Linked DNA regions of Homo sapiens: region 2 is linked to region 1. The links come from fine-mapping of genetic effects on gene expression. A gene starts in region 1. The other region holds a variant in brackets. All regions are shown on one strand. Distances are from middle to middle. Region 1 holds the start of LYPLAL1-AS1 (LYPLAL1 antisense RNA 1). Region 2 has its middle 6.6 kb from the start of ZC3H11B.

Region 1 (5,385 bases):
GGCATCACATGTAGACACCTGTCAATTCTGTCATAGAGGTAAAAGAGAAGCTGGTTTCTTAGCACAACCAAAAATGAGCTTTAGTTAATGTACTGAATTTTTCACAGTTCAACCAGTTGTTTTAGCACTGCACAGACACAAATGTGTACATTACTCCCCAGAAGAGCACCGTGTCCCCTGACAGTCTTATAGCTTAGAAGGAGGGAAATAGACAATATGAGGAGTACGTGTTGGATAAATCTAATATCTAATGTATTCCATGAGATGGTTTGCGTCTGAGCTCCACCACCTCTCATCAGTTAACTCTCGCATTCACTCACCCCACAATCAAATAATTCCCTTCTAATTCTCTTCTTTGATAGCAAGCCAACCCTGGGAGAAACAATGGTTTGGAACAATAGCACCTGAGGTGGAAGAAAACACAGTGGGCCTCTCACTTTCGCTCTCTAACCACAACAATTGAAAGAGACTATGGCCTGAAAAATCTATCTGCTCCTAAATGGTACCCAGATGGAAATCACAGCTGCTGTCATGTACCACCTGTACCTACGCCCATCCATCTTCAGAACACGCCTGGGGCAGAGGAGAGAAATCGAGTTGACAGAGCAGTTAAAGAGCCTCTCTTTTCTCCTGCATACTTTTCCTTTTATCTTTTTCTCTTCAGTTTCAGAGCTTCTTGTTCTCACCTTCATGCTGTGGCAATGCTGACAAAAGAAAACTGCAGCCTCTGAGAACCAGTGGTGAGTAATAGCCCCAGGCTCTGAATACCTAATGTCTATTGTATGTTGAGGGGAGGGAGAGCCAAAGGGAGGAGAGGAATTTGGTCAAATAGCCTGTGTAGAAACAGGACCTTTCGGTGACAATCCTAAATGCATCCAGAGAGTATCTGAGTTTTGATACCTCTCCTCTAATTAAATCCAAGGATCTAATATGCATGGCCTTTAGGAATGCGTTGTTCAAACAGATTTGATTCCTGCCCAGAGGCTTTTTAAGCCACTGACCACTTTGAACCTAATTAGAAAAAGCAGAGGACACTGGAGACGTTTAATAAAAGGAATCGAATTGCTGCTTCATCTTCATGACCTGGGATTTATAAGGGAATTTCACTGGCTTTGTAGCAATGTAAAATAAATAGACATTAGATGATGACAGGGAAAACAAAATTGCTGCCAAAGCTAAAAAGAGCTTGGCAAAAGAAGAAAGAACTACTACATAGTTGGTCATTATTTACTGTACAAACCTTTTCATAAAGCAGAGAAGAGAGATACATAGGAATAATGGGCCCTTGCTAAAAGATGAAAAGGGCTTTCTATAGCTTACATTATCCCCTGACGAAGGCACTGACGTGTCCCAGTTGTTACACAATCTTATTGTTCTATTCAGCCATTCAGAAAGCTGAATGAACAGCCCTGCTCTGAAACTTTTAAAGGCTGAAATCAACAGGCCACTCATTTCCAAGGAAAAGAATAAAATTGTAACGGATGGAAATAACTAATTAATTTGTTAATCTTTGCAGACTGCCACGGTCCATTGCATATGCTCTAACCAGTTAATTAGTCTTTAGCCTGTAATTCTAAAATGTAAATAAGTGCAGTTACCTAACCCACCAGCTCCTAACAAAAATATCCAACTATTCATTATTTAATTTAAAAGGAAGAAGGCTTTGCTTTTCATTGGTGGTGGTGTTCCTGAGATGTTAACTAAACACCGTGACCTAAGTTTAATTTCATCACACCTTACTGAAATGGTTTTATTCTAAAGTATATGCCCCTCTCCCCACTCCAGAAAGCTAAAATCATGAGGCTTAACTAAAGTCAGATCTATCCAATCCAACAGGAGATTATTTTTAGATGTTAATGAAGGAAAGGGTTTTTGTAAACTGTAAAGTGCTGGTAGCTATAAACCACTATAACTGTAAACTTGAACAAAAGTACATTATTTATTGATGTTAATTAATAGTCTATTATTCTATTAGATTGCATTTCAGTCACTAAAATCATTAGTAGACTCATTCAGCCTTTCAAATGTGTGTGAGAGGTAGGAAGGAGATCGGTGGGATAGGGCAGAAAGTGGAAGCAAATGCGTTCCTATGGCATTTGAGAAACACGGAAGAAAGTCCTAAAATGTATCCAAGAGAATCACAGCAAGGGACTCCTCTAGCGAAGAAGAGGACATTGATCCCATGAGCTGTACTGGTATCTTTTATAGTATCCAAAGCAGAGCAAATCCCCAATTAATTAGGGTGGTCAGAAAATGGTGGGTTCTTATTATTTCCCCTCTAAAGCACTGTGGGGCCCTATAAAGACTGAGTACCCAACTGGCCCTGCATCTTTGTGATCACAGGGCCTTGAGCAAGATACTCATCCTCTCAAAATGTCTTTGTTTGTTTTTGAATGTTTATAAGAGACTATCTGAAATTGGATAATTTATAAGAAACAAAATTTATGTCTTACAGTTCTGGAGACTGAGACATCCAAGGTTGGCGGGGGGCACATCTGGTGAGAGAGAGCCTTCTTGCTGGTGGGGACTCTGAAGTGCCCCACAGGGTATCCCATGGAGAGGGAGCTGAGGGTGCTCCCATGTGCCCACTTAGCACTCTCTTCCTCTTCTTATAAGCCACCAGTTCCCTTCCCATGATAACTCATTAATCCATTAACCCATTAATTGAAGAATGGATTAATCCATCCATGAAGGCCAAGCCCTCATAACCAATCACCTCGTAAAGGCCCACCTCTCAATACTGCCACATTGGGGATTAAGTTTCAACATGAGTTTTGGAGAGGACATTCAAACCACAGTACTAAGCCAATGCTTCTTCCTCTACAGGGAAACTGGGAAACTGACACTTCCTGCCTTATATTGTTGCAGTTGCAAAGATCAAATACCAAGGTTATGGGAAGATGTTTTGAAGCCCCATATAAATATGTAATTTAATTTATTCCAATAAAGACTCATTGCACAGGCTGGGCACAATGGCTCACACCTCTCATTTCAGCTCTTTGGGAGGTCAAGGTGGGCCGATTGCTTGAGCCCAGGAGTTCGCGACCAGCCTGGGCAATATGATGAAACCCCATTTCTACAAAAAAAATACAAAAATTAGCTGGGTGTGGAGGTGTGCATGCTTGTAGTCCCAGCTACTTGAGAGGCTGAGTGGGAGATCGCTTGAGCTTGAGAGGCAGGGATTGCAGTGAGCCGAGATTATGCCACTGCACTCCAGCCTGGGCGACAGAGCAAGACCATGTGTCAAAAACAAACCAACCAACAAACAAACAAAGACTCATTGCACATATAAGCAATAGATCAACCATTTTCAAAGAGCATAACCAAAAAAAAAATCCAACACTACACAAATCTTGAATATAATTTAACCTTTCTTCGAAAGTTTAGAAAGTATTTCAAGATGAGGCAATGCTTTTCTCTAACATTAACATGAGCATCGATTACAGAAATGTTCCACTGAATTACATGGCAAAATTAAAATTCTGATGATTTTATGTACATGGTTGCTTGAAATATGAGCTATCAGTAGCTACTATATCCCATTAGGCCTTTCAAGTTCACATCATAAGTTGTATAAGAGATAGGACACCTCCATTGAAAACATCAGTCGACTTAGACGATTTCTGTCAGATATTATTGATTCAGCAATATAAGAATGCGACGATGTAGTCCCAGCTACTGGGGAGGCTGAGGCAGGAGAATGGCGTGAACCTGGGAGGCAGAGCTTGCAGTGAGCCTGGGAGACGGAGCTTGCAGTGAGCCGAGATCGCGCCACTGCACTCCAGCCTGGGTGACAGAGCAAGACTTCGTCTCAAAAAAAAAAAAAAAAAAAAGTCAACGAAAGGACATGGGTTTGGAGAGTAACCAGAGATGCTGCCAATTAAAGATACCCCTTACTCAAGACACTTTATTTCTCTCTGTTGGAACATTGTCATAATATACTGTCATCTACTAAAAAATTACTGTAATAAATATAAAAATCTTCACTGTCTGCCATGACAGGAACCGCATGAGCTGTTATGCCCTTCTGCAACGCAGAACTTTCCCAACCATATATGGTGGCCCTGAGATGTGTAGTTTTGCCCTTTACACCTTTATTTTCTATTAGTACATTTACTTTTTAAAAAAGTATGAACTATCATTTGCAATTTGAAAAACATCAAATACAGAACATTTAAAAAATATATCGCTAGACCTCAAAATGAATCTTAATGGCAATCACAGATTTCAACCCTTTCAACCAGATTTCTGAGTGTCTGAACATAGATGTAGGCTCTGAGACTATGATTTCTAGCTTGTTTTTCCTAAATATTCACTGTGTAATTGGGACACTATCACTTAGCCCCTTTGTTCCTTATTATATCATTTATAAATTTTATAACTATATTTTAATAAAGGTACTTAATATCTAGATAATAGATAAATGGTTTGTCTATAATCCCTAATTTATATACAATAAGTCTACCAACTTTTATGGTAGAACTTCATAAGTTTTAAACTAGTATAATATTTAATTTTTAGTATATAAACATCTGATGTGGTTTGGCTGTGTCCTCACCCAAATCTCTCCATGAATTGTAATAATCCCCAGGTGTCAAGGGCAGGGCCAGGTGGAAATAATTGAATCACTAGGGCGGTTTCCCCCATACTGTTCTCATGGTCCTGAGTAAGTCTCCTGAGATCTGATGGTTTTATAAATGGGAGTTTTCCTGCACTAGTGCTCTTGCCTGCTGACATGTGAGATGTGACTTTGCTCCTCATTCACCTTCCACCATGATTGTGAGGCCTCCCCAGCAATGTGGAACTATGAGTCAATTAAACCTTTTTCCTTTATAAATTACCCTGTCTCGGGTATGTCCTTATTAGCAGCATGAGAACAGACTAATACAATATCCCATCAAATTATAAATGAATCTGAGGCTCTGATTCAGACAAAGGATGGATGGATTGGTAGTCACATTTATCTATAGAATAAAACTGGAATGACATACAGTACAATGTTTCAGTGATTCATGAATGGTTGGGATATGGCAGTTTTAATTTTCATATTTGTACATTTCTGTATTTGGTGAATTTTGTATAATGATCATGAATTGTTTCTGTTGAGAATGTTGTTGGAACAGTTGGGCTGGGAAAATCTCTACCTCCCACAAAGTATTTTGGAGAAAGGAACTGTGAACAGCCTGGAGGAAAATTTAATATTTAACTCAAACAAGTGGCATCCACTATATTCACACTGGCAGAGCTTTTCAGAATTAGAGTCTTGCTTTCTTTTTGTAAGCATCAGGATTGATTTTTATATGTGTTCTAATCTTAGTTTAGTCCTTTAACCATTTTTCCCAGGATAATAGAAATGAAAGAATGTTGTATTTTGGCTTGCTGAGT
Region 2 (5,385 bases), 62 kb after region 1:
ATAATAAAATAAAATAGAATAAAAGGGTTACAATGTTTGACAAGGAGTGTAAGACATTGAGAATTTATTTGCTGAGACTTTATCTTCCTTGGAAACTACAGGCAGATAGCCCTGTCTTATTATAGTGGGGTCAATGACCTCATTTTTTGGTGGGTCTGAGGCCATCAACCCACACATTCTGGTCAAAAATATTTTCAGAAACCAATTTTTTTTTTTCAAAGAAAAGGCAGAAAAGAAACATTACAAAATGTTAAACTTAGTTGCCTTTGAATGCCAAAAATATGGATACATTTTCACTAACTTTCTATATTTCCAAATATTGTTTTATAAGTATTACTTTTGCAATGGAAAAATATAGCAAACATGTTATTATGGTCTGCATTTATTGGTAATGAAAAAATTTCCAGGGACAACAAATTGTTCTGTTGCACTCTTCTAACTTCTATAAATTTCTGTTACTTTTGCAAGAAAATTACTGCATATTCTAGTCTTTTCTATTAATAAACAAAATGTGCTTTCCTATACCACAAACTATTTTATCCCTGTTGGTTTTTTTTTTTTTTTTCCACTGCATGTGCTCAATACGTCAATGTTCCCTCCTACACACTGTAAGCCACACAGACCACAGCCACCTGGGGAAAAGGGATGGAGTCTTCTGATTGTGTCCACCTAGGGAAGGGATTCATTCTACTTCATCTCAGCCTAGTTCAGTCGCTAATATGCCCAGTTTGTTAATAGCCAAGGGGCTTTTACTCAAGAGGAAAGATCAAGTATCCCAAATAAGCATTAAAAAGGCAACTTAAAAATTATATACATTTATATAATAAATATATTAAAGAAATTCCCCTCCCTCTTCAAATTAAGTTTATCTTTTAAGCTGCTGACAACTGAAGATGCCACTCGATTATGACACAAAAGGAACTGAATATTAAAGGCAAAATTTGCAGCTCTTTACAGGCAAAAAAAGATTTTTCCATGATCCCTTTACACCTTCTTAAGGATTAATAAGCTTAAACACATGCCAATATGCTGCCATGTCAGAATTCAAACAGATGTGCTCAGGAGCAGAGCTTAGGCTTTGGGTTTGAAAATATTTTTGTCTTTCCCTCCTCAGTAAATCATAATTGAAAAATTATTATCAAAAGTATAACTGGTGTATGGCTTTTGGCCATCCTGTACGGTGTCATAAGCTATCTCTGTATTTGTAACAATCATCTCATTTCTTTAAAATAACTCTAAAAGCAATCTTTTAAATTCTTTCTGGCAAGCCCTCCACTTATTTCTTAGCTCAGTGAAGATAAAGTTGTTGTTTGAGAACCTGGAATCCAGCATCCCCTATGATCTAGGTAGCTTTTCTTATGTTCGTGCTGCTGGTGCCATATTATGGAGAGCCCGAATTATGATACTGCTACGTTCTGCCCTCCAACTGACTCAAAGAGGACCAGATGAGGAGTTTGTGTATGTATGTCCTTTAAATGTGAATTCTGTGTTACCTATGAGTACGTTCCAAATAACAAGTTAGTGGATCCTAAAGTCAGATGGAGAGCAGAGCAGATGGACTATTCAGGAAGGAGAAGGAAACACACATTTATTGAGCGTCTCTGAAGGGGGCCAGCCGCTCCACACCTGTGGGTATATCTCATCAGGTGGGATGAGAGACTGAGAAAAGAAACAAGATACAGAGACAAAATGTAGAGAAAGAACACTGGGCCCAGGGGACCGACGCTCAGCATACGGAGGACCTACACTGGCACAGGTCTCTGAGTTCCCTCATTATTGATTACCATTTTCACTATCTCAGCAAGAGGAATGCAGTAGGAGAGCAGGGTGATAGTAGAGAGAAAGTCAGCAAGAAAACATGTGAGCAAAGGAATCTGTGTCACAAATAAGTTCAAGGGAAGGTACTATGCCTGGATGTGCACATAGGCCAGATTTATGCTTCTGTCCACCCAAACTTCTCAGGGGAGTAAAGAGTAACAGAGCAGCAT[T/G]GCTGCCAACATGTCTTGCCTCCTGCCACAGGGCGGTTTTTCTCCTATCTCAAAATAGAACAAATGTACAATCGGGTTGTATACGGAGACATTCAGTTCCCAGGGGCAGGCAGGAGACAGAGGCCTTCCTCTTACCTCAACTGCAAGAGGCCTTCCTCTTTTACTAATCCTCCTCAGCACAGACCCTTCACGGGTGTCAGGCTGGAGGACGGTCATGTCTTTCCCATCCCATGAGGCCATATCTCAGGCTATCACATGGGGAGAAACCTTGGACAAATACCCGGCTTTCCAGGGCAGAGGTCCCTGCGGCTTTCCGCAGTGCATTGTGCCCCTGGTTTATCGAGAACGGAGAATGGCGATGACTTTTACCAAGCATACTGCCTGTAAACATTTTGTTAACAAGGCACATCCTGCACAGCCCTAGATCCCTTAAACCTTGATTCCATACAACACATGTTTTTATAAGCTCAAGGTGGGCGCAAAGTTACAGATTAACAGCATCTCAGGGCAAAGCAATTGTTCAGGGTACAGGTCAAAATAGAGTTTCTTATGTCTTCCTTTTCTACATAGACACAACCGTCTGATCTCTCTTTCTTTTCCCTACACATCTCCTATGTACCAAGTGCTGGAAATGAATGATGCTCTTGCCATTCATGGTTGACCAGCAGCATCAGCATCACCTGGGAGCCTTTAGAAACTCAGAATCTCAGGTGCCATCCAGACTTGCGTTTTAACAAGATCCGCAGCATTGCATTTATATCATTTCATCTGCATCAAAATCCTGGATAAGGATGGTATTATCTCCATTTTACATTAGGAAATTAAGGATCAGAAAGTTTAAGAAATTTGTATAAAAGTTACAAGATAATAATGAGTAAAGCTGGATTTGGGCCCATTTTAAAACTTACTATATTTCCACTCCACTAGGATAACTCCTAAACCAGACTAAAGCTATGAGACTTAGGTTTCAGTCCAGCTTCCACCATTAATATCTCCCTAGCCTCATACACTACAAGCCGGTTAACCTATCTGAGTCTCATTTTTTTGTCCTGTGTACTTCATGGAATTACTACAAAACAAATGAAATCAATACATGTGAAAACACTTTGTAAAATATATAGCACTGGCCAAAATTAATTTGTTAATGGAATCTTATTTGTGACTCTTTCTCATTCAGTTTTTTCCAAGACATAAAGACCAAGAACAAAACACCAGATGCCAAGGACCTTCACGTTACACAGAGAGAGGCTAAGCTGTCTATGTGGTTTTGAAACTGGCAGGTCAGCCTTAGCCCATCACCCAACTCTAGGGTATAAAACATTTGAAGTTAAAGGGACAGAAGAGTTTTCTCTAGAAAGTGTTTTTAATTGGGGGTGGGGAGACAGAATTTCTCCTGCATCTCAATCTACAGCAAGAGGCTCTAAGAAGACCACACAGAGAATTTATTTGTCCCCTGAAAGGAGACAACTTCATCTGGAAGGAGAAATCTACCATAAATCTCTCCTCCCCTGATGGCTTTCCAGGCTAAAATAATATTATGTTTTAGTATTGCCATGCTGATATTTAAACTGGACAGCAAATGTTAATTATGTATCTTGGGGCTAAAAGTGACTAGTGGACTTTTTAATTATCAAAAAGTGTCTGCAAAGTTAGGACCCTGCCCAAAATTTCAGCCAAAAAGCAAGGAAAAACTAATCCACAGATTTTGTCTAAAGGGACAGTGAGAAAAAAAATAATGTAGTTTGCTGCTTGCACCCAATGGAGAACCGCTCTTTCAATACCCTGGTTACTCTATTATTAGTACCATAAAAACCAATACTAGATAAACAGAAACAATGTTTCCAAAGCAAAAGTCTGGTTTCAAAGATAAAGGTTCGAAGAGAGAGGTGAAACAGGTGAGTCAGCTTTCCTAAATTACCTGCTGTTATCCTAAATCCAAAACCCTAAAGGGCATCCTAATCCATTGTCTGACAGCTGCTAATCAGCCAGATGTAGGAGAGGCTTCCCATCATGAATTGGGCCTAATTCAATTTTTCTGTGAGAAACTATAGAGGTTTAGAGCTGTAGAAAACTTCTTCCCCACAATCAAGTACTAATCCAGCATATGGCATAAGAAGATAGAAGAGCAGCCTCTGCACCCCTCGCAGAAATACCCAATGAGAATGGAGGTATTAGTCAGACTAGTTATGAAAGGAAAAGCTGAGAGCAGAAGTCTAGGCAGACCCAGCACACAGGTCCTGGGGATGTGGACACAGGATCAAGGTCACAGGTTGTTGGCTGTAGATACAGTCACACATGGGTAGCTGAGAAAAGGGGAGATCGATATATGGGTTGGAAAAAAGAAATGGAAAAGATCCAATTTGACCAAGGTGTCCAATTACCATGTGTGTCAGGATGACTTCTAATACATATCTGCATCCCAAACCTTTGTAGGAAGCTCAACGCCATAGATATCTTCTTTCTTTCTCTATCTTCTAATTCCAGCACCACTCCCAATCACTCTTATAGCCATCCAAAAGTCTAAGACTTTTAAAAATAGTCATAGTCTTAACATCCTTAAAATGCTTCCATGGCCTTCACAGCCTTTAGATAATGCCAGGGCTCCTTGGCTGGCCTCCAAGGTCTCTCGTAAACTGGCTCCTACTTACCTCATCTCTCACTGACTCCCATTCCACACCTCACAATCCAGCCAGATGGAACTGCTCAGTTTCCAAACACTTCTTACCTTTGAGCCTTAGCATTTTCTACTCTACAGAGTTTTCCAAGCTGGCTGATGATAAGAATAACCTGAAATGCTTTTTTTTTTTGATTTTTAATAAAATTTTTTTATGCAAAAATCCTCAATAAAATACTGGCAAACCGAATCCAGCAGCACATCAAAAAGCTTATCCATCATGGTTAAGTTGGCTTCATCCCTGGGATGCAAGGCTGGTTCAACATACGCAAATCAATAAATGTAATCCAGCATATAAACAGAACCAAAGACAAAAACCACATGATTATCTCAATAGATGCAGAAAAGGCCTTTGACAAAATTCAACAGCCTTTCATGCTAAAAACTCTCAATAAATTAGGTACTGATGGGACGTATCTCAAAATAATAAGAGCTATTTATGACAAACCCACAGCCAATATCATACTGAATGGGCAAAAACTGGAAGCATTCCCTTTGAAAACTGGCACAAGACAGGGATGCCCTCTCTCACCACTCCTATTCAACATAGTGTTGGAAGTTCTGGCCAGGACAATCAGGCAGGAGAAAGAAATAAAAAGTATTCAATTAGAAAAAGAGGAAGTCAAATTGTCCCTGTTTGCAGATGACATGATTGTATATTTAGAAAACCCCATCGTCTCAGCCCCAAGTCTCCTTAAGCTGATAAGCAACTTCAGCAAAGTC

What was found.
Region 2: its variant is fine-mapped to the expression of LYPLAL1-AS1 in unexposed skin (GTEx, PIP above 0.99).

Annotation. Positions count from the first base shown.
Region 1 is chr1:219,554,738-219,560,122 of GRCh38, forward strand. It overlaps LYPLAL1-AS1 (LYPLAL1 antisense RNA 1), which reads right to left and starts at 2,587. Exons shown (of 4, transcript NR_135822.1): 1 at 2,454-2,587. It overlaps LOC124904514 (a long non-coding RNA gene), which reads left to right and starts at 663. Exons shown (of 2, transcript XR_007066882.1): 1 at 663-740; 2 at 2,456-2,970. RefSeq lists an enhancer at 277-976.
Region 2 is chr1:219,616,977-219,622,361 of GRCh38, forward strand. No RefSeq gene overlaps it. Among named protein-coding and RNA genes, the nearest start is that of ZC3H11B, 6.6 kb to the left of the region's middle. The variant T/G (reference allele first, on the strand shown) is at 1,989.